Linked DNA regions of Homo sapiens. The protein of the gene in region 1 purifies or fractionates together with the protein of each later gene. This does not show direct contact. Each region holds a gene or a part of one and is shown on either strand. Other genes may lie near its edges.

Region 1 (6,528 bases):
AAAAACTGGAAAAAAGTTTGCAGTAAGTGCTATGAACAAATCTGGTATCAGCATAAAAAGCTCTCACAAAACAAAGATATAAACAACACCTCCATGGAAAATGCAGACTAATATGGTTTTTTTTTTTGTATTTTTAGTAGAGACAGGGTTTCACCATGTTAGCCAGGATGGTCTCGAACTCCTGACCTCGTGATCCGCCCACCTCGGCCTCCCAAAGTGCTGGGATTACAGGCGTGAGCCACTGTGCCCGGCCAATATGACCTTTTTAAGAAAAAAAGACCGCAGTCCGTAAATATAAGGGCATAAAGCAGGACCATAATCACATACATGCTGACTGTGTGTTGAGAGCAGTTTCTGAGGCTTACTGCCGGCAGGGTCACAGTGAGAAGGGCCTCTAATTTGGGTGGTGCCTTCTGGAAACCAAGTTGGTATGGATCACGTCCATACAAGACACTGCAAACTGGGACCATTGCTTCCACTCCTAAGAAGCTGTCTGGCATTCTGGTAGACGCTGGTTTTCCTCCACCGTTCCTGGCTGGTAATTCCCATATTCCCATAGCCCTTGGTAGGGCCTTTTGTTAGAATGTTGGGTGGGTGATGCTTGGGGGGTGCGGGCGGGGGACTTTTACCTCCTGCCCTCCTTTCACCTGCCCCAAGGCAGGACGCTAACATTCTCACCTTTCTGACTGTGGGTCTTAAGACCCTTCCAGGAGAGGTCCCACCTAAGCCCTGGGGGCAGGAATGCTGACATCAGGAAGCTTCCGTAAAATCCCAAGAGGACTGAGGCTCAGGGAACTTCTGGACAGGGGAACACCTGGAGGTTCCCAGAGGGCGGCAACTAGCGAGGACATGGAAGCGCCAGCCCCTCCCCGTGCCTCTCTCTACGCTTCTTCATTGGTATCCTTTGCAATCAATACCCTTTACAATAAACCAGTAAACGTCATAACTTCCCTAGTTCTATGAGTGGCTCCAGCAAATTAACCCAAAGACGGTGTCACAGGAACCCCAAATTGAAGCTAGTTGGTCAGAAGTTCCAGGGGCCCAGGCTTGCGACTGGTGTGTGTCTGGAGGCCCTGCCCCTATCTGTGTCTGGAGGCCTTCTTGGGATGGAGCTCTCACCCTGTGGGATCTGACACCATCTCCAGGTAAATGGTGAAGGAAATGAATTAGAGGACACCCAGCTTGGTGTGTGGGGAACAACCCCCCTCCCTCAACATTTGGGCAGAGGCCTCCTTCTGTGACGGCTGTGGTGGTGTGGGCGCAGAGCCGGACACTGAGAGAGCATTTCCCCCACGCACCTTCTCAAGGAGAGGATGGATGTCCAGCAGCACCATTCACGGTGGCAACGTTTATTACAGGGCAGGGAGGACCTGGAGGAGCCTATCTGTCCAATGACAAGGGCTTCATTAGCAAAGTACACTCTGTTCCACTGGCAGCCAGTCAACTCTGAACCCGGCACAACCTGGGCAGGGGCCCCGGAGCACAGGCGTGAACCCCTCGCCCAGATAAAACCCGTGTTTCCTCAAGCACGTGTCCATCTGTCTGCCTGGCAGGCCCAGTGCTGAAGGGGAGGCATCCAGAGAGGGCGGAGGAGGGCCCCAAGTTGGCCCTGTTCACAGGCCCTGCCCTGGTGGATTCTGGGCCAAGGTCAGGGCTGGGACCAACTGGTGGTCAGCTCCAGAGACCACACAGTGAGGGCCCTGGTGCCCACACGGGCTCTTGCTCACACAGGCTGGCTGTTCCTTTGCAGCTCTGGCAGCCCGGCCATCTGTGACACCCTCTAGCCTCTGTGCCCCCAGGTGAGAGGTAGGCCCTCACACCCCAGCCCTGGCTGGGCTCCAAGGCCCGGCCTGCCTCTGGTGTCAGACCCATCTGATGTGGATTTGCTTTTCCCTTAAGTGGAAATCCAGATGGGGTGGCGGCTCCTCCTCTTCCTCCAGGGAGCCTTCCTGGGCCCCTCCCTCCTACCCCCAGGGGGTCCTGGCTGGCCAGACACAGCTGGGCATCTCCTAGGGCTTGGTGGATGCCGGTGGGTCCTGTTCCCTCCACCCCCTCTGCTGAGGCCTCAGTCCTCCCAGACCTGCTAGAGTGGACCCCAGACTCCCAGGAGACCCCAGGGTGCAGGAGAGGGGAGAAGGCTGGAAAGGTTGCGGGGAGGGAGAGGGCTGGGCCAGGAGTCACCGGGGCAGGCTGGGGGTCCTGGCCCAGGCGGACCCGCTGATCATCTAGTTAGTGGGGGAGGGGCCCACCAGGGGTCGGGGCCCGGGGCAGCCCCTCCAGGGCCAGACAATGTGTCTTCCTCAGGAGTCCCAGCAACAGAGGGGCCTACCAGTGAGGTCACAGAGCTCCGTGGTGCCGTTGGGGAAGAGAGCCAGGAGACTCTGATGATGAATTCTGACCAGAAGGCAGTGAAATTCCTGGCAAATTTTTACATCAATGGAGGCAAACACTGGACCCATGGTCACCTGAGGCAGACACAACCAGAGCCCACCCAGTAACTGGCGGAGAGGGGGAGAAGGGGCGGGCCAGCTGGGAGTGGCCAGGGGGCTGAGGGACAGTGTGGGGGGCAGGTTGCTGGGCAGGCGGCTGGGGGACTGAGGGACAGTGTGGGGACAGGCTGTGGGGCAGGCGGCTGGGAGCGGCCAGGGGCTGAGGGACAGTAGAGGGGACAGGCGGCTGGGAGCGGCCAGGGGCTGAGGGACAGTGTGGGGACAGGCTGTGGGGCACGTGGCTGGGAGCAGCCGGGGGCTGAGGGACAATAGAGGGGACAGGCTGTGGGGCATGTGGCTGGGAGCGGCCGGGGGCTGAGACAGTGGCTGCTGGTCTCCCTTGCAGGCCCAAGGCATCTGTGCTGTTGTTGGGCCCGGAGCCGGGGATGGCCTGGGATGAGACACAGCCCCCAAAGATGAAGGAGATCCCAGTTGGCCTCAGGTTACAGACGGGCACCCCCCAGGAGTCCCTGCCCACCTACACCCAGACCCTGAGGGAACTATGTGAGTGAGGGTCCTGGCCACCCCACCCCCAAGCTGGTCTTTGGGGGGCTGTGGGAGGGGCCCGCTGAAAGGAGCCCAGGCCCAGAGCTTGCTTCCTGTGGCCAGTGCTGGAGCAACGCCCCCTGATCACAGCTGACCTGGAAGTCCCCAGCCCCACCAGGTACCAGGTGCCGAGCCCGTCCGTACGAGAGTCCTCCCCACACCCCCACTACAGCATCGGCTGCAAGCACCAGGGCCGAGGTGTGTGTCCCCTCCCTGAGGCCCAACCACCGGGCCTGTCCCTCACCCTGGGAATGGGGGCCTTTGCCTCTGTGCTGAAACCCCCACGGCCTGAGGGCCCCTCCACCCTTCCCTGCGTTCACCTCTAGGCTCAGCACCTGTAAGGAGGCCTGGAGAGAGGAGGGCTAGGGCTGGGGCATGGGTGGACATTGTGAAGACAAGGGTTCAGGGGCCGAGGGTGGGAACCGGGAGACAGGTTCGAGTGGGGACTGTCACCTGGGTGGGGCTCCCAGCCTTCTCTCTCTCCATCCTCCAACTACAGAGGGCGGTGGCCGCAGGGCATGGCAGACTTTGTGGTTCCAGAGCGAAAGCCCCTTCACGCAGAAAGCTGACTTCGACCAAGAGCAAAAGGTTGGGGGCTGGGCAGGAAGGGGGCGGGGAGTCCACGCAGGCAGGGGGCTGGGGGTTCCAGTGGGGCCAAAGGGGGGCTGGCTGAGGGTCCGTGGGGAGCACCCTGCCCTGCAGCCCGTCTCCTACCCCCTCGCAGTGGCCCTCGCCAGCCCACTACCAGCTGCTCAGCCGGCCCGCCTTCCCCGCCTTCAGCTTCAGAGGCTGCCACTCCGCTTCCAAGACACCTGAAGGCCACACCCACCTAGGGCTGCCTGGGGCTAGGGGGCTGGGCCTCAGGGTGCAGCCCCAGTCCCTGCTTCAGGCCTCTTTGCAGGCACCTGGCAAGAGATGCCCTGGCCCCAACACCTACAATATCCTTCCTGGGAGCCGCCTGCAGAGCCCCCGCTCGCCGGCCTTCTCGATGAGCCGCTCCCCTGCGTTCACCTCCTGGCTCAGCACCTGTAAGGAGGCCTGGAGAGAAGAGGGCTAGGGATGGGGCATGGGTGGGCAATGTGAGGACAAGGGTTCAGGGGCCGGGGGTGGGAACTGGGAGCCAGGTTTGAGTTGGGGCTGCTACCTGGGTGGGGCTCCCAGCCTTCTCTTTCGGCAGCCCGAACCCCTGGCCCAGCCGCCTACCACGTGGAGGACTGCAACTCACGCTTCCCTTCGGCGCCTGGCGTGGTCATCCAGGGTGTACGCAGACCCAAGCGCCACGACACAGGCCCCTTCTGCACGCTCTAGAGCCAGCTGGGCACAACCTGCTTGGCCCGGCCACCGAGTGGAACCATGGCCTCCCCCGGGGCTTTCCCAGGCCTCCCCTGGGACTTGGGGCCCCAGCCTGGCCTTCTGACCCTCTGGGCACCCCGATGCACCCTTCTGGCTGGCCAACCCTTCTATGGGCTGTGGACAAGGCTGGCCCAGCCTGGATCCCCCATCTGCCCATCTCCCCGCTACACTGAGATGCTGTTGGTTTTCCCGAGCTCTGTGGTGTGCAGTTGTCTGTCCTTCACCCGGGGGCGGTCCTAGAGATATGGCTGCCGCTGGGTCATTTCCGGCTTTCCCTGTTGAGGGGTCTCCATTCAGCTGCCCCTGAAAGGTGCTCTCTTCTCTAGGGTGGCAGCCTGTGACTGACCCTGAGCTCTAGCCTGGAGCGAGATGGGAGGTGGGCTCTGTGGGACACCCCCACCCAGCCGTGTCACTCAGGGGCCTGGTCTAGCTGCTGTCCACCTGAGGGTCAGCTGCTTGCCGAGCCAGGGAACTGGGAAGGAGGCGTCAAATGCCCTGAGCCGCCACCTCCAGGTGGGGTCGGCCTGGCCAGACCTCAGGAAGGGCCCAGGGATCTGCTCACCAGGGCCCAGCCCCACTTCCCCTAGGCCTTGAGCTGAAGACCTGGCTGGGCTTAGTCACCTGTGCCCTGAACACTCTGGCCCAGGGCCCTGCAGACTCCACTCCCGGGGCCTTCACCTGCTGGGACCCTGCACTGCCCCTGCCTGCAACTTCGCCTGGCTGGGGCCTCCCTTGTCATCACTGGCCTGCCCTCCTACCCAGGGTCGGGCCCCAAGGCTGCCACCTTGCAGGAGCCTTACCTGCGGTGCCGTCACCCGCACCTCCCCAGGTCCTCCCCAGACCCAGGACCCAGACCAGGCCCAGAGCTCAACCCCTTCAAAAAGGCTCTGGGCAGCTGCTTCTGTGGCCTCAGCACCACCCCCTTTCTCAGAGAGGAATCCCAGGCTCAGGATTGTGTGTGTGCTGTGACCCTTGTCCTCCTCTGCCACCGAACCAGCTGGGGGTTGGATCAAGGCACTGGAACCCTCGCCCTAGGGCTGACCAACTTGGCCAGCGGCAAGAGAGCTGTGGTAGCCATGGCCTTGGGAGCTCGGCCCGGCTTGTGGGAACAGGAGCTCTGCTCACGGCTGCACCACCAGGCACCCCTGGTGAGACCCAAAGCTAGGAGTGGGAGCGGCAGGAAAGATGGAGCGATCTCCTCCAGCTGGGCTGAGGAGGGAGGGCTTCCTGGAGGAGGTGGTGGAGGAAGAAGCCTTCAAGGAAGAGCAAGAGTTTGCTGGGCAGCGGGAAAGAAATTTCTAGAGAAAATTTCAGCAGCGGAGACCGAAAAGAGAGAGGGTGTGTGTAGGGGGCTTGGCGCGGCACAGCCTGCGGGAGGGCGGCGGGCTGGAGAGGCGGGGAGGCCCGGGGAGCCCACCCGCCTGGGATAAGAAGGGACACTGTGGAACCTGGACTCTCCTTCACGGCTCCGCGGAGCTCGGTGGGCGCCACAGCCTCCCGGTGCCTGGGAGGGCGGCCGTCGCTCGCGCTCCCGCTGCGGGCCCGGTCTCCGCCAGGCCCCGGCCCCCTGAAGGCGCTCAGATCTCAGTTTTGGCGACAGCGCCGGGGTGGGCTTCGTGCCCGTTTCACGCGGAGGAACCCACGCTCAGGAGGGAGTCTGCGCCTGTGTCCGGCCCCTGCGGGGCAGAGGGGCGGGGAGCTCAACCCCCGGCAAAACGTCCCCGCTGCGCGTGGCTGCCGCGAGATCTGCAAGAGCGTTTTCCACGCTTATGTACACGAAATTCACTCGGCTGCGACGACGTCCGTTCCCGGAGCAGACGGACCCTGAGTCCGCCCCCCACGCCCTCACCCGCCCTCTTCTGCCAGAAAGCCCGGGCGCGGGCGGGACCGGGTGGGCGCATGCGCGCTGGGCTGGCTGGGCGGGGTCTCTCGCGCCGGGTGAGGGCGCTGCTCCCAGGAACCTGCGCGCGGCCCCGGCGGCGTTTCCCGGGGGCCGGTTGGCGGGCGGACCTGGGCGGTGCGGGGCGGAAGTGGGCGGCTGCGGGACGCGCGCGGAGTCGCGCGGCGGGCGGGACCTGGCCGAGCTGGAGGGCGCCGGGGAGCGGGGCTCGGGCGGTCCCCGAGGCCCGGCGGAGCGGGC
Region 2 (5,897 bases), 3.6 Mb from region 1:
CAGAGCAGCGCCGAGGCTGGGGGCCAATCCGGCTCGAATCCCTCGGGGCAGGGGCGGCTGGAACAGCCTTCTAGACAGCTTGGCCTCTGCATGCTCCCCATCCCACACCCTGGCTCGGGCTCCCCAGCAAGCGCTCGGGAGCCAGTCAGCCCCAGGTGCAGGTGCTCTTAGGCAGGAGGAGGGTGTCACCTCCAGCCTGGCACAGCTGGTGACGCCTGGCACTTTTGCTGCAGCTGCTATGAGGAGGGCAGGCTAGGCCACTCAGGGAAGCTGTTCTTCCTTTACAGCAATTAAACCCAAGGTCAGGGCCACAGGAGGGAGTCTCGGGCTCCGCTCTGGGAGTCAGAGGGCTCCTTCTTGTTCCTAGCAGCTCAGGACTGGATGAAAAAAATAAAAAACAAACCAAGCTTTTTCTGCGACAGGAGCTTTAGGAGTGGTGCTTCTGAGCCATGTGTGCACCTGCAGGGCTGAGAGCTCTGAGCTGCCCCCCGCAGGCAGGCAGCATGGAGAGCTGGTGGCCTTCAGATGTCCACGGGCATGCACAACTCAAAGCGGGCATCTGGCCTTGCTAACAGATACCTACGAGGCAGAAACGCCTTCCCCATCTCGGAGCCTTTCCCATCAATGAGCAGGTTTCCCTATCTTAGGCAGAAACCTCCGTTACCCCACTTGGGTGCTAGAAAATGTTTAACAACCAGCTCTGGGGTGAGGTGGGTGTGACTGTAGCATTTGCCCATTTCCATGGTGCAAATGCTCTGGACAGCCCTGATGGAGGGGGCAGGAGACGTGCACCGGCCGCTCTGGGTGCATCGACTGGTTCCCCGGCTGCCTGTCTGGATGCCGTTTAACCTCGGAACCTCGGCTTCCCTGGTCACGTTGGTTATGGACCCATCCCTGACTCCGGAGAAAGGCGAGCATTACTGTTCTTTGAAGAAATGGCAAAGGAGCCTCCACTCCCCAGCCCACCCTGGCATGGAGCCCATAAACTCCGGTTTGGCTGGGCCCCAGGGCTGTGGCCCCCAGGACCATGGCCCCAGGGCTGTGTCAGGAGGCCCTGCCCACCGTGGGAGCCATGCCATCACAATCCCCACATATTAAGACTCACTCTGTGCAGTGGCCTGTATGACAGCCCTGCATGGTAGGTGAGTGTCCACATTTTATAAATGAGGAAACTGAGGCTCCAAGAGAGGATCCTTATCCAAGGTCACAAAGCAAGTAAAAGGCAGATCCAAAGGCTAGTGGCATCAAGTGTGTCCCCAGCCTCCCAGCTCCACCGCCGGACTCAGCCCCATGGGCTGCCACTTCCCCACAGCTCCACAGGACCATGGTCTTGCCCGAGGCCTGGCGGTGTCCCCTCCCCATTGGGCCTGCGAGCTGGGCCTGCGCATGTTCTGCAGCTCTTGCTAAGGCTGCTCCGTCTCCAGCCTACCCCTCCTCATGGCTTCTCCCAAGTGCTCGCTCCCTCCCCAATTCCCTCTACGTGTCCATCAGGGGCTCAGGCTGGAAGGCTCTGGAGCCAGGCCAGCACCTCCCGGCCTCACTTAGGGCTTAGGCCAAACGTCAGATCGGCTCCCATGGAGAGACACGACCCTCCTCACCGGCACCTCTACTTGCAGTGCCAGAAAGATGGGAAAAGGAGGTGGAGGTAGAGACCACCCCTTCCCCTTCTGGGGAGGCTGCCCACCCCCTGCCCCACCACCCCTGGCCACCCAGAGCTGTCCTGGGACTTGCTCCTGGGGGCAGTGCCTGCTCTTTCCAGCCTGTTCCTGCCTCCTGCAGCCAGGGGTCAGGGTCACCTGGAGGGGGTGGGGTTGCCTGGGGTCAGGGGTGTCGGGGGTGAGGAAAGAGAGGATAGGAACATGGGTCTCTGAGTCTCTAGTCGGTCACCCTGGGGGCCACCCCTGCACCCCAGGCAAAGGGTGGGCTGTGGGTGGCCTGAGGTTTGGGTCTCTGGTGTGAGGAGCTGGAAGGTATCAGCCTGGCTGGCTGGCACCTCCTTCTAACCAAAAAAAGCCTGGAATCACCAAAGTCGGATTCTTCCAGAAAGAAAACAGAGAGCAGCTTTGGCTCTGCCCAGGCACAGCTGGGGAGTCCTCCACCTGCTGAGGCCTCTTCCTCCCCCTTCTCCTTCTCCCTCCCTCCTCCCTCTCCCTCCTCCTCCTCCTTCCTCTCTCCCCTTTTTCCTTCCCCCTCCTTCTCCTCCTTCCTTCCTCCCCCTCTTCCCTCCTCCCTCCTTTCTCTTCCCTCCTCCTCTTCTGGACCACACCCGTGCCTCCTCCCTATGCCCGGCACACTCAGGGTGCAGTGCAGGGAGCTGGTTTGGAGCTGGTGAGGGATCGGCATCTGCCTTAGCAGGGCCAGAGAAGGGGACTCACCGGCCCACCGCTGGGGTCATGGATGTAACCGTAGGCGATGGTCTTGTCGATGGCGAACCCAAAGTCAGCCCTCCGGACATGGCCCACCACTTGGCCGTTCCTCCAGATGGCCTCCAGGCCAAACATGGGTACTTTGCTGGAAGAAGCAGTAGAGAAAGCTGGGGCCCCAGAAACCGCAGGGTGGGGACGCGTCCACAGCGGCCTGGAGGAGAATGGGGGGCTGCATGATGCACACCCAACCGTGGCTCCAGGCAGATAGGGCTGGCCTACTAGGACTACGCTGGTCCCCAGAGCCAGCCCAGCACCTGGCCTGGACAGCAGGGCTCGGGCTTCGAGTGAGTAAAAGGGATGAATAGAAAACATCAAAACCAGGAGTGGACTTTGCTGTTTCCAGAAGCGAGCCCCGTATATTTGGGAGGGCCCCTGCTTCCGATTTCCTTCCATTGTTGTTCAACTCTGGTTTTTTTTTTTTTTTTTTTTTTGGTGCAGTGGCACAATCTAGACTCACTACAACCTCCGCCTCCCAGGTTCAAACGATTCTCCTGCCTCAGCCTCCGGAGTAGCTGGGATTACAGGCACCCACCACCATGCCCGGCTAATTTTGTATTTTTAATAGAGATGGGGTTTCATCATGTTGGCCAGGCTGGTCTCGAACTCCTGACCTCAAGTGATCTGCCCACCTCAGCCTCCCAAAGTGCTGGGATTACAGACTTGAGCCACTGCGCCCGGCCAGGTTCATTTTTTTTATAGTACAATACATACTTTATTCAAAGGACTTTACTACATGTAATACATGAATGCTCACTGTAAAAGTTTTAAAGATTAAAAGCAGGAAGACAAAAAAAAAAAAGTAAGCTAAAATCAAAGAAAGGCCAGCACCCAGGGCTAACTGGTAACATTTTGTTGCCAGTCTGCAGACTTCTCCCTGTGCAATGGGTTATCACGGCGGCAGCTATGCAAAGGGGTCCCTGAATGGAAGGGCTGGGGTGATGTTGAGGGCACCTCCTGCATCCTCAGCCTGGAGTCACTGTTTGGGTCCCACCTGTCCATCAGATTAGGACGAGGCTGGAAGGAGGTTTCGTAAACATCTTTGGTGTCACCCTAGTTTCTGTTCTCCACGTGAGGACGCTGAGGCCCCAACTGCCCGGAGTCCCAGAGCAGTGTGGCAGGGCTGTTCTCTGTGACTCCACTGCCAGCATCTTCTCTGCGCCTGTCCTGGAACTGCAACAGTCCAGAGCCGCGGCGCAGGGCAGCTATTATGCAGCCTGACAGGAAACCCCTGAGCAGAGCGCACTGGGTCACAGGGGCCGTCCGAGGCCCTCCTAAACCCAGACATCAGGCTGCAGGTACTTCATGGAGGGCCAGAAGGTCGGGGTCAGGCAAGCAGAAAGGACCCATGGATGCTGACCTGTCTGCAAGGGGCCCCCTCTCCAGGAGCTGAGCTGATTCAGGGAGCTGGACAGGCTGTCACACAAGAGACAGAGCCTGACAGGCACCCAGGGAGAAGCCACAGGATGACGACGACACGGCTCCACTCACCGTCCCTCTCCCTCCCTCTCCCTCCCTCTCCCTCCCTCTCCCCCACCCTCCCTCTCCCTCTCCCTCATTCTCCCTCACCCTCCCTCTCCCTCACCCTCATTCTCCCTCAGCCTCCCTCTCCCTCTCCCTTCACCCTCCCTCTCCCTCTCCCTTCACCCTCCCTCTCCCTTACCCTCCCTCTCCCTCGCCCTCCCTCTCCCCTCGCCCTCCCTCTCCCCTCACCCTCACCCTCCCTCTCCCTCACCCTCCCTCTCCCTCACCCTCCCTCTCCCTCACCCTCCCTCTCCCCTCACCCTCCCTCTCCCTCACCCTCCCTCTCCCTCACCCTCCCTCTCCCCTTACCCTCCCCCTCCCTCTCCCTCACCTTCCCTCTCCCCTACCCTCCCTCTCCCTCACCCTCCCTCTCCCCTCACCCTCCCTCTCCCTCACCCTCCCTCTCCCTCACCCTCCCTCTCCCCTTACCCTCCCCCTCCCTCTCCCTCACCTTCCCTCTCCCCTACCCTCCCTCTCCCTCACCCTCCCTCTCCCTCACCCTCCATCTCCCCTCACCCTCCCTCTCCCCTCACCCTCCCTCTCCCTCACCCTCCATCTCCCCTCACCCTCCCTCTCCCTCACCCTCCCTCTCCCTCACCCTCCCTCTCTCTCTCCTTCCCTCTCCCTTACCCTCCCTCTCCCTCACCTTCCCTCTCCCTCACCTTCCCTCTCCCTCACCCTCCATCTCCCTCACCCTCCCTCTCCCCTTACCCTCCCTCTCCCTCACCTTCCCTCTCCCTTACCCTCCCTCTCCCTCACCCTCCATCTCCCCTCACCCTCCCTCTCCCTCACCCTCCCTCTCCCTCACCCTCCCTCTCTCTCTCCTTCCCTCTCCCTTACCCTCCCTCTCCCTCACCTTCCCTCTCCCTCACCTTCCCTCTCCCTCACCCTCCATCTCCCTCACCCTCCCTCTCCCTTACCCTCCCTCTCCCTCACCCTCCCTCTCCCCTCACCCTCCCTCTCCCCTCACCCTCCCTCTCCCTCACCCTCCCTCTCCCCTCATCCTCCCTCACCCTCCCTCTCCCTCGTCCTCCCTCTCCCTCCCCTCGTCACTCTGACACTCCTTTTGAAGGCTCCAGAAATCTGGGAGAAGTGGCAGTGTTTGCAGCTGGCTGTCAGCTCCATGTCCACAGAGCCCAAAGCCGCCCACTTCCCCGGATACCTGTGCTTCAGACCCCCGTGGGCACCACGGGAGGGCCTCTGATCAGGGCCTGATCTTCTCAGACTGCCCTGCAACCCAAGTGGGACTCGGGTTCCTGGAATCCAAACTCTCCCAGTAGCCCAGGGATCACGTGCGCCGGGCTCCAGCAGCATGCTCAAAGCCACTCTCAGTGGGGAGAGCAGGAGGTCAGGTCGCCCCCAGGCAGAGTCTCTCCTTCCACCTCTGCCGTGTGACTGGGCGTGAGTCCCCTGCTCCTTGGCACCATGTGGTCTCCATTCGTGAGTGGGGATGACGGCCCCAGCCGAGCCCCTCTCCCCCTATCACAGGGCTGTGGGGAGACTGAACCAGAACGGGATGGGAGGTCGTGTTGCAGTGACTGGGAGGTCAGGCTCCCTGGGTTCACCCTCCCAAGGCCCTCGGCCTAGACCTGCCACAGAGGGGTGGCCTGGGCTTGGCTGCACCTTTCTCTTTTGAGACCTGCATGGGAAGAGTGTGGAGCCTTCTCTACCTCCCCACGGGCCCTGCTGGCCTGGGAGGGGCCCCAGGTGCGCAACCTTACACTGGCCTGGTTTGAATCCCAGCATGTTGGGATCCTCACGCTTGTAATCCCAGCACTTTGGGAGGCCGAGGCAGGCAGATCACGAGGTCAGGAGAGTTCAAGACCAGCCTGGCCAACATGGTGAAACCCCATCTCTACTAAAAGTACAAAAATTAGCTGGGTGTGGTAGTGCACGCCTGTAATCCCAGCTACTTGGGAGGCTGAGGCAGGAGAATCACTTGAACCTGGG
Region 3 (5,897 bases), on another chromosome or scaffold:
CGCTTTTGATATTTGCATTCAGCATATAGGAGTCTAGAATAAGATACTTCCAGATTTGGGGGGTTGTATTTTTTAGGATGAAATGAGCATAAATGGATGGGTTAACCATTTGCAGAATGCTACTATATAAAGATGTTTACAAATTTTCATTATAAAGGCTTAACAATATGCCCAATGCACTTAAGATAATGACCATCTAGGCTCAGGATTGAAAAATAACTGAAGAGCTGTAACCCAATAAACTTGTGTGAACAAAATATTTGTTACTGGCTGGCATGGTGGCTCACGCCTGTAATCCCAGCACTTTGGGAGGCTGAGGTGAGTGGATCATAAGGTCAGGAGATCGAGACTATCCTGGCTAAAATGGTGAAACCCTGTCTCTACTAAAAATACAAAAACTTAGCCGGGCGTGGTGGTGGGTGCCTGTAGTCTCAGATACTCGGGAGGCTGAGGCATGAGAATGGCACGAACCCAGGAGGTGGAGCTTGCAGTGAGCCAAGATCGTGCCACTGCACTCCAGCCTGGGCAACAGAGCCAGAGTCTGTGTCAAAAAAAAAAAAAAAAAAATTTGTTACTGGGTGAGTGTCTTCATAGAGGTGAAGTAAAAGAGATTTTCCTCTGTCCAAGGAAGAGCGTTCTGTGATCAGCTGGTGAAAGTATTCTGCTCTACCTGGGAGGCATATTTTTATACCAGAACTGTCACAGTTCAATGACATGTCACATTCAAGGTTAGCCAGGATTCTGAGCTCTGACTCTGCCCATTGGGCCTCCCACACAAACTGTCTCACAGCAGAAGGGATACAGTGACCAGCTATCATAGAATTCTGGTCCTGCTGCTACACTGCTCCAGCCAAAAGTTTATAAACTGCCTTCTGGCTTAAGCGTCAGCCTCTTTTGACATCAGTTAAAGAAAATCAGTCACTAAGTCGAGCCAACTCAAATTAGTTTACAATCAAAAATCAATTTTCTACTGGAAAAGTGGTGGAAACAGCCTAAGAGTCAATGTCACAAAGAGTAGGTGTGAATCCTAGTTCTGCCACTCACTAGCCTTGACTAAACTACTTCACTTCTGTGCCTTACCATCCATGCTTTCATCTTCCATACGTGGGTATAACAGCGACTCCCCCTCATTTACGTTGTGAAGATAAAAACTTACATCAGATAAGGCACTTAATAAATTACAGCTCTGCAGTGACCCACTTCCACCTGAAACCCCTGAAACACTGCATGGGCAGTGGGTAATCGTCCCTCTCTGACATAGTTTTGAAAACTGTTTTTCTTATTTAAAAGTAATACATTCTCGCTGCAGAAAAATTGCAAAGCAAAAAAAAAAGTACAAAGAATTGGGGAAAAAGAGGTTTTTTTGGGCATATTTCTAACATTCTGGCATATTTCATTTCAGCTGTTTTGCTATGTTTATTTTATGACATATTTTTAGAATATTTACAAAATTTTTAAAAAGTGTAAAGAAGAAAAGCAAATACCATCAACTCTACTACCCAGAGCCAATCAATTCTATTATATTGGCATATTTCCCTCCAATGTTTAGCCTAGGCATTTAAAAAATGTAACTGACTGATCATGGCCAGGCTGGAATCCTCTTTTTCAGATTAATGTGATACATTTCTATGACTCACATTTCTCTTTTAATGAAACATTACTTACTGTTTTTACCATCTTTAAGAGTCATGTTTCTGGTATACGAGATATTCAGTCTTCTTCCACTGCTAGACGAAAATGGAGAGAATTGATCTAGAAAAAATTTAAAATTCAGTAACAAACTTATGAGTATCAAGCCTATGAAATTTACACCTTACAAAAGAAAACATAAAATGCAAGTGCTGGCCGGGCACAGTGGCTCATGCCTGTAATCCCAGCACTTTGGGAGGCCAAGGCGGGCGGATCATGAGGTCAGGAGATCGAGACCATCCTAGCTAACACGGTGAAACCCCGTCTCTACTAAAAATACAAAAAAATTAGCTGGGCATGGTGACGGGCGCCTCTAGTCCCAGCTACTCTGGAGGCTGAGGCAGGAGAATGGCGTGAATCCGGGAGGTGGAGCTTGCAGTGAGCCAAGATTGCGCCACTGCACCGGATCCAGCCTGGGCGACAGAGCAAGACTCCGTCTCAAAAAAAAAAAAAAACAAAAAAACACACGTCCTAAACTGGCAGCTCAGATGTGCTTTTTTTGTTCTTCTTGTTAAGTTTAAAGGGCTGGTTTTGTTTACATCTTATGAAATTTCATGTGAAAAATTCTAGCTTCTATTGAAGAATCTGAATATTTGCAATCTAAACTCTAATCCCATAGTGGCATAAACTGTACCACAGTCACCACCTTTTGATGGGGCAAATTCATTCCAGGTCACCAGTCTCTACTATTCACTATTTTTCTTTCACCTGGCCTCTTTTACTCTTTTATGTTTTTATGTTGTTGGCCCAGCCCTTATAGGCCTTTTTTTTTTTTCTTTTTTGAGACGAGTCTCGTTCTGTCGCCCAGGATGGAGTGCAGTGGCATGATCTTGGCTCACTGCAACCTCCACCTCCTGGGTTCAAGTGATTCTCCTGCCTCAGCCTCCAGAGTAGCTGGGATTACAGGTGGGTGCCACCACAGCTGGCTAACTTTTCTATTTTTAGTGGAGATGGGGTTTCACCATGTTGGCCAGGCTGGTCTCAAACTCCTGACCTTAAGTGATCCACCCGCCCTGGGCCTCTCAAAGTGTTGGGATTACAGGCATGAGCCACCGCGCCTGGCCCCTTATAGGCATTTGGGTGTATATCCTCTATTGGACAATATCCAGGAGCTTCAGCATAGCTAAGCTGATGCAATTTATTCTGAACCTCATATCTGTACCAATTATAAACTTTCAAAAGGAAGGTCACAGTAAGACAACGTTCCATTCTAAAAACGTTAAGGTCAGGCTCAGGAATACCACATGGGACGTATTTAGATGCATTTTCATTCAATGTAAAAGGATAAAATGAGGATAGAGCACAAATCTTCTAAAGATGCAGTTTTCGGGACTTAAAACATTTTACATTTTAAGCTTTCCATACAGCTATCTTGAATGAATCTAAATGAATTCAGAAATTAAAGATTCTAATGATAGGATCCTATAATAATACGGGTTCAGTATCACTTACCCAAAATGCTTGGGACCAGAAGTGTTTTGAATTTCAGATTTTTTTTTTTTTTTTTGGATTTTGGATTATTTGCATTATATTTAACTGGCTTAGCATCCCTGATCCAAGTATCTGGAATCTGAACTGTTCCAATGAGCATTTCCTTTGAGCATCATGTTAGTGCTGAAAAAGCTTCCGATTCTGGAGCATTTTGGATTTGGGGATTTGGGATGCTCAAACTGTATAGGGTAATATAATAATTACCAATAAAAGAGAAAAATAGATCAGATTTTTAAAAATTCTGTTTGCTCCGAAAGTCAGAGCTAGCCTGAAATGCAAAAAGTATGTGAGAGCTGAGATTTTGTATCAATTTAAAGGGCAGAACTTTTTTTTTTTAATACTTTAAGTTCTAGGGTACATGTGCACAAGGTGCAGGTTTGTTACATATGTATACATGTGTCATGTTGGTGTGCTGCACCTATTAACTCGTCATTTACATTAGGTATATCTCCTAATGCTATCCCTCCCCCCTCCCCCCACCCCACGACAGGCCCCGGTGTGTGATGTTCCCCACCCTGTGTCCAAGTGATCTCATTGTTCAATTCCCACCTATGAGTGAGAACATGCGGTGTTTGGTTTAAAGGCAGAACTTTCTAATGGAGAACTGACTGAAACTGTAAGCTACCTGATGAGGTAATGAACTTCCAGTTTCCCAAGGTGTTAGGAAGAAGTTGGGCAACAGCTTAGTGGGTGTGCTGGGGTAGGGATGCAATGCATATGTGTGGTAGCCAGGATGAACCCCACTATGGCCCTTCCTATGCTTGGATTCTATGACACTATGAAGTCTCTAGGTAGACATTCAATCACAGGATGGAAAAAGCGGAAGTAATTCGACAATAAGTCATGGGTAACCCTGGGGAATCTAAGTCTCCAGTCTTAGATTGTCTTGAGACTCTGGGACAAAGGGAGTTGCTGCAGGTACAGAGGACAAAACAAAGTAGGGCTATGAGGAGTGGCGAACAAAAGAAGTGATAAGAAATTAGTGTAGGATGTGGGGAGAACAAGTGTTTGACTGAAAAGAGATCCATTTCCTTTTTTTTTTTTTTTTTTTTTAGATGAACTCTCGCCCTGTTGTCCAGGCTGGAGTGCAGTGGCGCGATCTCGGTTCACTGCAACCTCCGCCTCCCGGGTTCAAGCGATTCTCTTGTCTCAGCCTCCCGAGTAGCTGGGACTACAGGTGCGTGCCACCACACCCAGCTTATTTTTTGTATTTTTAGTAGAGACAGGGTTTCACCATGTTAGCCAGGATGGTCTTGATCTCCTGACATCATGATCCGCCCACCCTGGCCTTCTAAAGTGCTGGGATCACAGGCACGTGCCACCACGCCCAGCTAATTTTTTGTATTTTTAGTAGAGATGGGGTTTCACCGTGTTAGCCAGGATGGTCTTGATCTCCTGACCTCATGATCCAGCCGCCCTGGCCTCCCAAAGTGCTGGGATTACAGACGTGAGCCACCGCGCCTGGCCAAAGAGATCCATTTCTACAATGTTAGGTGATTAGTTACACTCCAGTTAATGGGTTAAATAGTGTTTATGGGTGCATCCATGGTAAGTGAAGAGCTTTCCTTCATACTAAAAAACACATCTGAAAAGAATGGTGTCAGTCACTGAGAGGAGAAAAGAGAGGTCAGTGTGCCATACAGAAAGAAAAGCATGTTCAATGATGATTTGCAAAACTTGACAAGCAGAGGAAAGAGAAAAGCCTTCCATACCATGTGCCTGAAGAGTGAAAGTGTCGGTCATGGCTTTCTCCTTGAGGATGAGACCCAGGGCTGCCTGGCATAAAGACTCTTTGGCTGCAGCCTTCCGACTGAGCAACAACTGTTTGTGGTGTTGAGGGATGAAATCAGTGTGCACGTTCCCAGCTTCAAACTCTGGGTGGCCAGACAGGTTGAGTAAGAAGTCAATGTTGGTGTGCAGTCCAACAATCTAGGAAGAGAATAAACCCCCAGTTCCTGCTGAGTGGGGAAAACAATATGTTCAGAAAACCATCTGCTCTTTTTATCTAAGTATTTTCTACTGTGAACAACTCTTAGGAAAAATAAAAAACCTACTAAGGTACCATGTGGCAACAGGACAATTCTCAGGAAAAAAAACACAAAAAAACCATCTCACTATCACTATGTCCATCCGCTATTACTATATCCATCTGGACTTGACACTAAAAATTACATTTTAATATGACAAAGAGGATGCTGGAAATACCGAGGCACTTACTTGACTCAGGTTAGGAACATAATAAATGTTAAGAAACATAAATGAAATTCATTTGCAAGGTATCGAAGACTTGCTGCTCAGAACACTTCCACAGAATAGGAAGACTGCAAACAGCAAGCTGGATTGCTATACTGGGGAGAGGATAGGATTAAATGCCCTCAAAAGAGCTTCTTTCCAACAATAAAATCCAAATTTTATATACCGATACAAAAATTTTAAAAGGTATAAAATTAACCCAAATACACCAATAAATGGGATCAAAAGTAAAACCAGCTATCTGAGCTTTGGGTTCATTCATTCACTCATCCATTCCTTCATTCATTTAACAGCCATTTCCTGAGCATCTCTTAAGTGCCAGGCTCTGATCCAGGCACTGGGGACATAGTGAGGAACAAAACATATGATGTCCCTGCCTTCACAGTCTCTGCTTACATTCTAGGGCAACAAGTAACAATATCTGTAAACAGGTATTGAATATAATGTTACATGCTATGAAGAAA
Region 4 (5,897 bases), on another chromosome or scaffold:
TTGATTCTCAAGGGTGCTTTTGGGTATTAATGTTCAAGCCTTAGTTTTTAATAAACCACTTTTGGAAATATGGGCTGGGAGTTGTTTTGTAGCCAAATAAATATGTTGGAGCAATAGTTTAATAAACATGCGATGATGCATCTTAAAAACCAAGCACAGATGTCATCCTGTTGTTATAAGAGCCATTCATAACTGCAGGCTGTGTGTGGCATCTTCATTCCTCCAGAAACAGATGTGCTTTGCTTCATTCTGCTGCAGTACAGGAGTACGGGTATGGAAACTGACCCTTGCTGACCCTGGAATCACCTGTTGGCTACTGCGAAGGGCTGCCGGGCTGCGACTTTCCCCTTTTGGCAGGGCATTTGCAGAGCAGCAATGTTGGGAATCCACTCTTCCATCCCCCAGGGGATGCCACTACCATATTCCATTGAGCTGCCAGGCATTGATTATTTAGTTCTTTCAAATACATGTTTTTCTAATAGCAATTAAACACCCATCCCAAAAATACAGAAAGTAATTGAACTTAACGGTGTATGTGTGATTCAGACAATTTTTCTGAACATTCATTCTCGTGTGGATAGTGTCTGGGGGGGCTTTTCATGTGTGTCCCCAGGCTCTAGCCTGCTTTTCTCCTGCCTCCTCTTGTCCCACCTCACTTGGTCAGGATGACCCTGTCAGAATCTCCCTTCACTCCATGTGAGGACATCAGAGATGAGCGAGGCACAGACCTGCCCTCAGCCCCCATCTCATACAAGACCACAGAGCCAGGAGCAAGCTAAGCAAAGGCGGGAAGCAGATGCTGGCTGGCTGCTGGGCCTGCGGAATATGTTGATGCTCCTGAGGTGGGATTTGTACAGGGTGTCAGAAAAGAGGGAAGGTTGTCTGAGAGAAGCTGGAATGTGCAAGGCCTGCCATGCCCAGGGTGAGGAGTTTTGAACTCTTACTCTGTACACAGTGGGGAGACGTGGGAAGTTTTTGAGCAGGGGAATGACCCAGTTAAGGCTGACTTGCAGAGGAGTGAAGGATGGACTGCATTGGGAAAAGGCTGAGGGCCGATCTGTTAAGAGGCTGTTTCTGTTTCAGTAAAGACAGATTCAAGATGATGAGGGCCTGAATGAGGACATCCTTCCCTCCCCCTCACCCAAAGCAGCTCTTGATTATGAAAGAGTGAGTGGGCCTCTGCTGGGCACTGCAGATGGGGGATGGGGATGGTGACCCAGGCCCTGGTCTCAAGGAAACAGACATGTAACCCACCAGTTATAGTTCTTCCTGCGAACAGAGCCAGGTCTGGGGGCAGTGGGGGTAAAGGGAGCCTGACCATCCTTGCTAGAAGGAAACTTTCTGGAATTCCTACAGTAGGTCCTTATTCAGCCTTTCTGTACCCTAGACTCTGTACAGGTGGTTCATGCTGCTCTTTATTTCTTCTTCAATGTCCTGGGCTCTTAGCTCTGCCCAACAGACCTGCCTATAGCAGGACAGAATCCCATACTCATTTATTTCTTTGAATTTACACATACAGTCATGCCTTGCTTAACAATAGGGACACATTCTGAGTAGTGCAATTTCATCACAGTGTGAACATCATAGAGTATACTTACCCAAACCTAAATGGTAATAGCCTACCACACACCTAATCTATATGGTATAGCCTGTTGCTCCTAGGCTAGGAATCTGTATAGCACGTTATTGCCCTGAATACTGTAGGCAATTGTAACATAATGGTAAGTATTTATGTATCTAGACATACCTAAATACAGAAAAGGTCATTTGTTGCACTATGATGTTGAGACAGTTACAACGTCACAAGAGGATAGGAATTTTTCAGCTTCATTATAATCTTATAAGACCACCTCATACATGCAGTCTATCGTTAACAAACACATCATTGTGTAGCGCATGACTGTAGGTTACACATGGTTGGGTCACTGTGTATATGATTGATATGGTCAATAATATCAGTATTTAGAGCAAAACTCAGACCTCGTAAATAATGTCGTGCTTTACCCTTCTTCCCCACTTGACCTCTCTGGGGCTCTGTACTGTGTCTGCCTCTACTTGACCTCCCCCAGCTCCTGTCCTTAGCCCCAGAGTCTTGGGAAAGTTCTGGATAGTGAAGGGCAGCAGCCTAATGCTCTTCTGCTCCCAGGGGGAGGTATTCGATCCTCCTCTTTAAGGACACCCTGGAATCTTCAGTCCATGGGCCCTGGATGTGGGTCCTCCACAGATGGCCCTCTGCCATCTGTATTCATTATCCTCTGCTTACACCTTTCAAAGCTCTAGTGCTGCTTTCCTTACAGAGCCTTCTTGGATTCCTCCCAGCTGGGTGTGATCTCATCTTCCTTTGCCTCTTCCCCCCACTCTGATCCTACACCTGCCTTCTGGTCTGGGAGGGTATGAGGGTGATCTAGAAAGGACCATGGCAGCTTGTCACAGGAGGGAGCTCCTTTTGTGGAAGAGAAGCTGGAGGTCAGGTTGGAGAAGTAGAGCTGAATGCCACTTGCCACACTGTTCTTTATATGAAGAAGTCTGTGGGCTATATTTCATCTGAAACTGCTGGATTGTGCACCTCCTGAAGGGCAGGGACAAGGTTGTGTTCTCTACCGTCTTTTACCCTGTTCCACAGCACAGCGGCACTTACTTGTTTTTTGTGACTCTTTCTTTGCTTTTTATTGACTTTTCAGTGTACCTGAAGTAAGCAGTCCAGAGGCTTTCACACTCCCCTTGGCTATATCAGAGGGAGGCCAGGTCTCTTCTCTTTCCTCCCTCCCTCGCTCCCTCCCTCCCTCCCTTCCTGTGTGACATCCATTTCCTCCCTTCTCCCCTGAGGCACTTAAGTTCATCCATCTCTGGTTCCTCAGAAGTGGAAGCCTGGCCTCCTACCTGTCAGCAGTGTGAGCAGGTGGTCCTGCTCCTGGGCTTACCCCAAACTTGAGCCTGAGGAACTGCTCACCCGAAACCTAGGGCACAAGGCAGACTAGAGGCACATCTGTCCAGGCTCAGGCCAAGCCATGTGAGGAGTTGTCAGGACTGGGACTGGGAAAAGTGAGGCCTCCTGTTCTCCCGGTGGAGATCACATTTCCTTCAGCACAAAGTGGGTGAAAGACAACACCCCTACCCATCTCCCTTCTCCCAGCAGGGGGCTAGGCCTCTGCTGAGTGCTTACCTCAGTTGTTCATCAGCCCAAGCAGTCTCTAATAAAGGAAGCCTGGCAAGATCAGTCTTGGGCCTCAGACTGCCTGCCCTTTTTCTCCAGGATTTATTTATTCATTTGACAAACAGCATCTGCCATATCCTGAGTCCTCTGCTTGGCACAGGGAACACTTAAGCAGTCATGGTTCCTGCCCATGATGACAGAGTCGGGGTAAACTGTGGCAATAGGGTGGTCAGTGCTGTGAGACAGGAAACTACAGGGGCTGCAGGAGACCAGAGGACAAACAGCCTGGAGGATCTGAGAAAGACTTCCAGAGGAAATGGCACCTGATCATAGACTTAAAATATCAGTTGGACTTTGTAAATAGAAGGGGAAGCCATTCCAGGCAAAAAGGGCAGCATATGTGGTAGCATAAGGCAAGGAGCAGCCTGGGGGGTATGCAGAGGGGAAGTCACTTGCTGTTCGGTGTTGCTGGATCACAGTCTGAGGCCAGGAGGGACTGGAGACAGGTAGCGACCTGGTCGTGGAGAACATTGATTGACTCTCCGTTTGTCCCTCAGTCGCCCATCTGTCCAGCCTGTGCTTTGTGCCTAGCCCTGAGCTGAATTTGTGGCAACAAAATGAGGAAGGAGAAACAGTCCCTGCCCTAGAGGAGCTCGTGTGCCCTCTGGTGAGGAAGAAGGACATGAGTCAAACATTGAGAGCCAGTGAAACAAGGAACAAATTACCTACCTTCCAACTAACATGAAGATGATAATAACTAACCCCACAGAGTGGCAGAGTCATTATTACTAATAACAAAATGATTAATTCATTCAGCCAATACTTACGAGTGCATATTCAGAGCTAGGCATTGGGCTGAATGTGGCAGTTAACAGTAACGAACAAGATTGGCACAGTCCCTGCCCTCTTGGCACAGTCTAACTAGGAGTCAGATAACTAATTATGCAACTGTAAAATTAGTAGAAAGAGTTTACTGGGGCCAAGTTTGAGGACTGCAACCCAAGAGTCTAGATTCAAGTTGCCATAAATATATGCTCCAGATTAGCAACAGTTGCAAGTGTGTTTTTAAAGGGAAAAACAAGAGACACTTTTTTGTTGTTTTTGAGACAGAATCTCAGTCCGTCACCCAAGCTGGAGTGCAGTGGCACGATCTCGGCTCACTGCAACCTGCGCCTCTTGAGTTCAAGTGATATTCATACGTCAGCTTCCCGAGTAGCTGGAATTAGAGGTGCATGCCACCACACCTGGCTAAGTTTTTTTTTGTGTTTTTTTTTGTTTTGTTTTGTTTTTTTTGAGACGGAGTCTCATTCTGTCCCCCAGGTTGGAGTGCGGTGGTGCGATCTCGGCTCACTGCAAACTCCGCCACCCGGGTTCATGCCATTCTCCTGCCTCAGCCTCCCGAGTAGCTGGGACTACAGGTGCCCGCCAACGCGCCCGGCTAATTTTTTGTATTTTACAAAGAGACAGGGTTTCACCATGTTAGCCAGGATGGTCTGACCTCGTGATCCGCCCGCCTCGGCCTCCCAAAGTGCTGGGATTACAGGCGTGAGCCACCACGCCCAGGGTATTTTTGTTTTTTTTTTAAGTAGAAATGGGGTTTCACCATGTTGGCTAGACTGATCTCGAACCCCTGACCTCAAGTGATCTGCCCACCTCGGCCTCCCAAAGTGTGCTGGGATTACAGGCCTGAGCCACCACGCAGAAGAGGCACTTTCCAAGTTGTTTACCAAGAATTTACATTAAAATAACAAGCTATTGTTTGGCTATACATTGTTCTTTGTATCACATATTCCAGGAACTACAGGAAAATAATGGGTGAGGCAGCTAGTTAGGAAACTACAGGGTAGAAAAGAAAGAAAAAAATGGCTTTAAACAATTGCCCCCAGGCATGGGGCAAGGGTGTGGGGTTATGGCTGAGCGCCTATACTCAGGTCTCTCTGGGCCCGATACATTTTGCATAAAAATATGATAGAACAGTACATCAGAATATTATTCATCAATTCAAAGGAAGCACTGATACGTGCTACAACATGGATGAACCCTGAAAATATGCTAAGTGAAAAAAGCTAGTCACCGAAGGCCACTGTCTTTGTCTGTTTGGGCTGCTATAACAGAATACCGCAGATTGAGTGGTTTATAAACAGCATAAATGTATTCCTCTCAGTTCTAGAGATCAAAGTCCTAGATCAAAGCTTCTGGTAAATGAGACTGAAGTGAACTCTTAATGATGAAGAGAAAGGCGGAAGACAGTTCAGTTAGAGGGAACAGCAGGTGGAAGGTCCTGACTCAAAGATGTGGAGAAATTGAGGAATTGAGAGAAGGCCAATAAGGCTGGACCCTAGAAAGCAAGGGGGAGAGTGGTGTCAAATGAGGTTGGCGAGTTAAGCAGGGACCATACCACACTGGGTCTGTAGGCCATATTAACAGTTTTTATTTTTGTCCTAAGAGCATGGGCAACCGTTGAGGAATTTTCAGCCAGTATGTGTATGTGTGAGAAAGACTAACAGGTACACATTGTGACATGATATAGATCTGCAGTTTTGAAAGATCATTCTGGTTGTTTGGTAGAGAACAGATTGGTAGAGATCTGTGTTGGATGCTGGAAGACTGGTTGAAAAGTAGCTGGAGTAGTCCAGATGAGAGAAGATGTGACATGGACTAAGATGACAGCAGCAGAGATGGAGGAAGTAAACTAGATAGGACTTGGTGATGGTTAGGACAATGCCTGGTACAGTGCCTGCCA
Region 5 (5,897 bases), on another chromosome or scaffold:
AAGGTCTATAAGATGACATTAGACCCAGTTAAGAAGCAAGTGTCACCTGAGTTGGCCATGCAATGAATGAATATTATAAGCAGTATTGGAGAACTAGGCGGTTGCTTACTAAGAAGTGTCTTGGAAACATTCGAGTTCATACAGTGCATGACAAAGTAATAGAAGGCTGCAAGCGCTGAAAATGCACCCGAATCTGGTACCTAGGATGAGTACATGAATAGTGATGAATAGCCCTTTGTGCTGTGTGCTATATACAACCATTTGCATTCAGAAAGCAGCATTTGAAGCTGAGTTCCATTACTGGTGATTGAAGTATTTTCAGGAGCAGATACATGTGGTGCATGTTATATGCACTTAGTTTGAAAGTATCCCTCACCCAAAAAGTGCAGAACCTCTGAAAGGTGAGCCGTGGTGCAGGTGCCCCCCTCGCTGTTCGGGTCAGTTCTTGGCCATGCTTGGCCTGTCACACGCCGGGTCTCAACAACATCGTGCGAGGAGACAGTGACTGGTTTCAGCCCAAGAGTCAACTGTTGAGCATGACATCAGGAAGCCTGTACTGTCCTGATCCCACCAGGCTTGGGTTAATTTCCTATTGCTTCAGAGAAAGAGAGGCGCTCTTGTGCTTTTGAGAGAGCTCTCATGTTAAAAAGAGGTTGTCTTTGCACTGCGCTTGGTATGATTTGTTTTCTTATAAAACAGGAAGAGAACCTAGAATGTGCCTTTCGTGAAGGTCTGACAAATGGGGTCTCAGAGTCCTAGGACCCGCACCAAGGTCAGAGTCCACCTGTAGAGGCTGAGCATTTCTACATGCACCCAGGGTGCTGGGCTGAGGCTAAGGGTGGACGCGTAGACCCCATCACAGGCTTCCTTCCTGAGCCCAAGTCCCCCATTTGGTCACTATCCCTTCTCAGAGCAAGTGGATTCTCTTTTCCTCACTTGGAGTATTCAATGTTGAAGTAGTGGCCTGGAGTGGCCTTTCCCTCAGCTGCCTGTCTGGGCTCCCTGGCTTCCCGGATCTTCATCTCATACGTGAGGCAATAGGAGGAGTTTCTATTCATTGAGACAAACAGTGAGCGGGCACCAACAGGCCAGCAGCTTGGCCCTTTTCACAGAGGTGGCCTTGGAGTCTGGAGTCTGGGCAGCTGTCTGCCTCTCTACGGCTCTGCTTCCCAGCGGGCACACGGGTCCGGAGCCTCAGAATGAAGTGGTGCAGAGGCGCAGGGCACACCTAGGAGAAGCTCAATGACCACCAAAGCCCTTGAGGAGAGACGGGGTTTGCTGTGTTAGAGAAATGGCAACCCCCAGGACCATGCACGGCTCTGGCAGTGCACAGTGGCTGATTTTCACCAGTTCCTCCTACCCCTGCCTCTGTCGGAGACTAGAAAACATTCTACCCCTTCAGGTCTTCTTTTAAAAGAAAAGAGCTATGGCAAAGCGTGCCATACAAAGTTAAAAAAAGGAAGAGTGGCTTTGCGTTCTTGACCATGGCCACAATTCTGGTCACTTCTAGCATCTGACCTTGAGAACGGTGTAGAGTCTCTGAGCCACCGCTGGCCTTTGAGAGAGTCTCACTCTCCAGCTAGCTCTTTGTGTAGTGTCCAGGGCCCCGGCAGTCAGGATAGAGCGAGCAAAAGAAGATGGACAGTGGACAGGGCGCAGTGGCTCACGCCTGTAATCCCAGCGCTTTGGGAGAGCGAGGCGGGCAGATCACAAGGTCAAGAGATCAAGACCATTCTGGCCAACATGGTGAAACCCTGTTTCTACTAAAAATACAAAAATTAGCTGGGCATGGTGGTGCGTGCCTGTAATCCCAGCTACTCGGGAGGCTGAGGCAGGAGAATCGCTTGAACCCGGGAGGCAGAGGTTGCAGTGAGCCGAGATCGTGCCACTGCACTCCAGCCTGGGTGACAGAGCAAGACTCCGTCTCAAAAAAGATGGCCATGCTGGCCAAGGCTGGGCTCATAGGAAATATCTGTAGTAGGATGAAAGGAATCTGGCCTAGGGAGCCCCGGACTCGGTTTACCTACCCCGTACTCATCCCACTCATCTGTCTACCCTAGTGTCCATCATGCCCTGGATGAATCGTAGGTGGGAGGGACAGAAGCCGAGAACACCAGGCACACGGGGTGGGGGGAATGGGGGGAGCCCAGGTGATCCCCTTTGGAAAGTGGATTGATCCTCTCCCCTGTGGAATGACAGCTTAACCTGATTAACCCACTGGGGCTTGCTATTTTATGAGCATTTTTAAACAGAAAGGAAAGATGATATCCCAGTGCAGGTAGACTTTATTTTTGAAAGCATCGTGGCCCCTCACCTCTCCCTCTCCCCCAGAACCTTGGCCAGAATTGAGTCTTCGCGTTGGGGAGGCCACGCTGGAACCATTGCTCTAGGGCTGAAGGTGGAAGTAGGGCCACTGCCGCAGCTTCAGCCAGAGCCCTCGCTGCTTCGCAGAATTTAACAAGCACACGACTGGGATTCCTTTGGATATGAGAAAGGAAGGCAAGTGCGGGCAAAGGGAAGCTCCTCCCGTTTTTCATAAACAGAAGTAAGATGTCCTCTTTCCCAGGTTTGCACAATCACTTCTGGCAAATTAATTGAAGGTCCTTGAATTCAGCCAGTGCACGAAACCTTTGCATGTTCTTCTGAAACTGTACTTCTTCCCTATTCTGTCTACCCACACTCTGCGAACTTTGCCTTTTCCTTAAACACATTCCAGACCAAACACTGTTCAGTTTGTTAAAAAAAAAAAAAAAAAAAAAAGATGTATATACCTGTATGTGATCCACCACCCTTTTGAGGGGCACCTGGTCCTCGGTTGGGGCTGCAGGTGTGCCTGACATTTGCAAAAGATATTCCAGTCTTTCGATGTTCAGAATTGAAAATGTGGAGATAGAAAAGCTCAAACAGACTCCTAAAAGGAGGGTTTCTTTCCTGAAGACTCCAAGAAAATGAGTGTGCAGATGAGTTAGCTTGACAACCTCAACTCTGGGGAGCAGGCAGGCGGTCTGAGGAAGATAAGGGCCCACGCCCCACTCACCTGGCACCTGTTCGGTGGTCCCGGGGCATCATGGTCTGCAGCTCTGGGCCCCCAGCCCCACTGTGAAGTCAGTCCTGCATGCTGGCCGAGGCCCGGCCACCTCCCGATGCCTCCAGAGTCAGTGGGAAGGAGTCAGCCCTTCCCAGACTTCCCCGCCACCTCCAGCAGGAGCAGCTCAGTTTGTGGCTCTGGGAGCTCCGCTTTTGCAAACCCAAAAAGGCTGTGCATTTGGAAGCCAAACGCTCAGCATGCGGCTGCCGAGTCTGGTTTTGTGGACAAAGCAAACTGTGGAATGGCTTCTCGGTGTCTGTATAAAGGGACAAACGGTTGCATTCACCCTTTGTACTATAACACCGCTTCTGCATTCGCCATATCCGTTTTTTAACCTTTTTGTCTCCGGGGAACTTCTCATTCGATTATTATGTCTTCTGATGATTTGCCATGTTATTTTAAAGGTGATTTTATTTTCTTATGGACAGGAAAAAAGAAAATGAGGAGGAGTTGGTTTTACTCTTAGAGATAAGACTTCAGCAGGGGCTCAGAAACCCCAAACTCTAGTTAAATTGCTTCTCGGAGGAAAATCTTAATCTAGACAGATTCAGATTCCCAGGCTCTCCTGGAAGCCCTGCACTTCAGGGCACAGGGGCCCTGGGACGTGGTTGGCAGCCAGGCTGCGAGAGAGCTAAAAAGGAACAAGAACATCAGCTCGGATGTTTGTCTCTCAGCCCTGACACCTGCCACTCTCCTTCCCGGGGCACTTGGCCCTATCAGAGGGACATGAAATGCTGTCCGAATGGTGGCAGAAATGCAGCGACATTGCATGCAGCAGAGTCTTTGCTTCGAAAGATGGGGCGCCATGTTTCAGAGAACATTTATCTTAGTCCCACGTTCAGGTGAGAAGACCTCAAAGGTACCCTCTGTCCAGAATAAACATTGGAACAATCTCTCAATTGGCTTTTGTCACTACACATAATGTAATCTCCCTTCTTTCAGCTCCCCCAACAGTGAGCATGCTTCCCAAAAAATTACAACATCAAAACCAGGAATGTCCCCGCATCTACTATTACCAGGCTTGCAATTGGTTCAATTTTCCCATAAAAACATGTTTGTCCAAAAGAAGGGAAACTGTGAATTTATTCCATGCATGTAATAAACTCTGCAAGAAGTTTAACCCACATAGGTTTGCGGCACTGCAAAATTGTTCATGGGTCTATGTAGCAAATGATTCTCTGCCTTGACAATCATGTATACATATCAAGATTTCTATCATAATGATAATGAGATTGATGACTTCCTGTTTTCCTCCAATAAAGACAATTAATCACCTTCAGATGCTCATTTCCTCTGTCATGAGAAGGATGTGGAGTTTCAGTGTCTCTATCTTTCCTCTGCTTCCTGAAGTTTGGATTTGAAGGAAGGAGTTTGAATTGAGACCCCCCAAACTCATGGAGTCCCCCTTAAATATTTCAGGTCACCTCCCCAGTGAGCAGGGAGTGGCAGGGATGGGTGAAGGGATGGTACATCGTGCCTTTGGGGTTGGGGACAGGTGCCCAGGTTCCATGATCACTGGACAGGAAAGCTCCCCCTTTTCCCTGCTGCTGCAGAGGGGGACTGGAGGTGAGCCTGGGAACTCAAATCGCACTAACTCAATATTCCTAAGTCATGTGGAGGAAAAGCCAATGCTGATCCCCAGGAAGCGCCTCTGAGTCATGGGTGGCTTGGCAGCCTCAGGCTTCAGCAATACACACCCACGTTCTTCCATTTCCTCGGCATAGCAGTGCCCAAAGGAAGATTCTTTTCCAGGCAGAAGGCTGGCTGCTGTCTTTTGTGGGGGTTTGGGGGAGATGCAGGAGGAGGAACTACAGTTCATAGCTCATCAAATGTATTGTGGGGCTCGGGTCTGATGGCCAGACAATTCTTCCAATCCAAATAGGGATTGTGTAGGGAGAAAAAAATGAATTGGACATGTGTTATAGAAATGTAGAATTAAAACTGTCCCACACAGCCAGCATCAGATGAAAACAGCATGGGTGGGCCTTACTGAAAAAAGGCTATGAGCCCAAAAGAAAGGCAGTGCCCACTGTCTGATGTCTAGTTCTTTTGTGGTTGATTCTTGCTTCTGTAGCCCAGACCCTAATGATGAGTTGCATCAATACAAAGCTATCATTCAGTGGGTGAATATGTGATGTCGTTATTGCAGGTTTTATGGAACATAACATTTTGATGGCAAAAAAGGAGATACAAATCGTGTGCACCCAAATCCCCCTGACTCTCTCTGCCCCCAAGGAGAGTGACTATGCCATCAAAATCCTGTTTCATAGGCCAGGCACAGTGGCTCATGCCTGTAGTCCAGCCCTTGGGGAGGCCAAGGCGGGCGGATCACAAGGTTAGGAGTTCGAGACTAACCTGGCCAACATGATGAAACCCCATCTGTACTAAAACTACAAAAATTAGCTGGGCATGGTGGTGGGCGCCTGTAATCCCAGCTACTCAGGAGGCTGAGGCAGGAGAATTGCTTGAACCCAGGAGTTGGAGGTTGCAGTGAGCCGAGATCGCACCACTGCACTCCAGCCTGGGTGACAGAGTAAGGCTCTTTCAAAAATAATAATAATAATAATAATTCTGTTTCATAGAGAAAGATTCTGATAACAGATTTCCGTAAGTTCATCTGCATGTTGAGTAATTTGGCTGGGCTGGATGTGGTCTTAGGCATATGTATACACTTGGCTTGGACCAGTGCTCTTTAGCTCAAGAAAGACTGAGCAAGAGGTACTGTGCCCAGCCTCATATTTTACATACTACTTGGTTGCAACACCTGTGCTGAGCCCCCAGAATGTGTAATTCCCAAAAGAGCACCCCA

The links.
Region 2: the proteins of STPG3 (region 1) and SARDH purify together in Homo sapiens (affinity purification with mass spectrometry; one large-scale study listed by BioGRID and IntAct). This does not show direct contact.
Region 3: the proteins of STPG3 (region 1) and MCCC1 purify together in Homo sapiens (affinity purification with mass spectrometry; one large-scale study listed by BioGRID and IntAct). This does not show direct contact.
Region 4: the proteins of STPG3 (region 1) and CLPB purify together in Homo sapiens (affinity purification with mass spectrometry; one large-scale study listed by BioGRID and IntAct). This does not show direct contact.
Region 5: the proteins of STPG3 (region 1) and CAMK1D purify together in Homo sapiens (affinity purification with mass spectrometry; 2 studies listed by BioGRID and IntAct, with this or other methods). This does not show direct contact.

What each region holds. Positions count from the first base shown.
Region 1 is NC_000009.12:137,248,903-137,255,430, forward strand, and holds STPG3 (protein STPG3), read left to right. Parts: upstream 1-2,383; 5' UTR 2,384-2,384; coding exon 2,385-2,494; exon of another isoform or gene 2,495-2,835; coding exon 2,836-2,993; exon of another isoform or gene 2,994-3,098; coding exon 3,099-3,233; exon of another isoform or gene 3,234-3,534; coding exon 3,535-3,623; exon of another isoform or gene 3,624-3,759; coding exon 3,760-4,063; exon of another isoform or gene 4,064-4,196; coding exon of another isoform or gene 4,197-4,212; coding exon 4,213-4,343; coding exon of another isoform or gene 4,344-4,561; 3' UTR 4,562-4,581; downstream 4,582-6,528. Other genes in the region: CIMIP2A (ciliary microtubule inner protein 2A), read right to left, coding at 1,299-1,334; NELFB (negative elongation factor B), read left to right, coding at 6,464-6,528.
Region 2 is NC_000009.12:133,664,360-133,670,256, forward strand, and holds part of SARDH (sarcosine dehydrogenase, mitochondrial precursor), read right to left. Parts: intron 2,512-5,897; coding exon 2,376-2,511; intron 1-2,375. UniProt on the Homo sapiens protein: Catalyzes the last step of the oxidative degradation of choline to glycine. Converts sarcosine into glycine.
Region 3 is NC_000003.12:183,032,326-183,038,222, forward strand, and holds part of MCCC1 (methylcrotonoyl-CoA carboxylase subunit alpha, mitochondrial isoform 1 precursor), read right to left. Parts: intron 5,110-5,897; coding exon 4,893-5,109; intron 1,753-4,892; coding exon 1,666-1,752; intron 1,660-1,665; exon of another isoform or gene 1-1,659.
Region 4 is NC_000011.10:72,423,436-72,429,332, reverse strand, and holds part of CLPB (mitochondrial disaggregase), read left to right. Parts: intron 1-5,897. UniProt on the Homo sapiens protein: Functions as a regulatory ATPase and participates in secretion/protein trafficking process. Has ATP-dependent protein disaggregase activity and is required to maintain the solubility of key mitochondrial proteins.
Region 5 is NC_000010.11:12,831,179-12,837,075, forward strand, and holds the end of CAMK1D (calcium/calmodulin-dependent protein kinase type 1D), read left to right. Parts: 3' UTR 1-4,367; downstream 4,368-5,897. UniProt on the Homo sapiens protein: Calcium/calmodulin-dependent protein kinase that operates in the calcium-triggered CaMKK-CaMK1 signaling cascade and, upon calcium influx, activates CREB-dependent gene transcription, regulates calcium-mediated granulocyte function and respiratory burst and promotes basal dendritic growth of hippocampal neurons.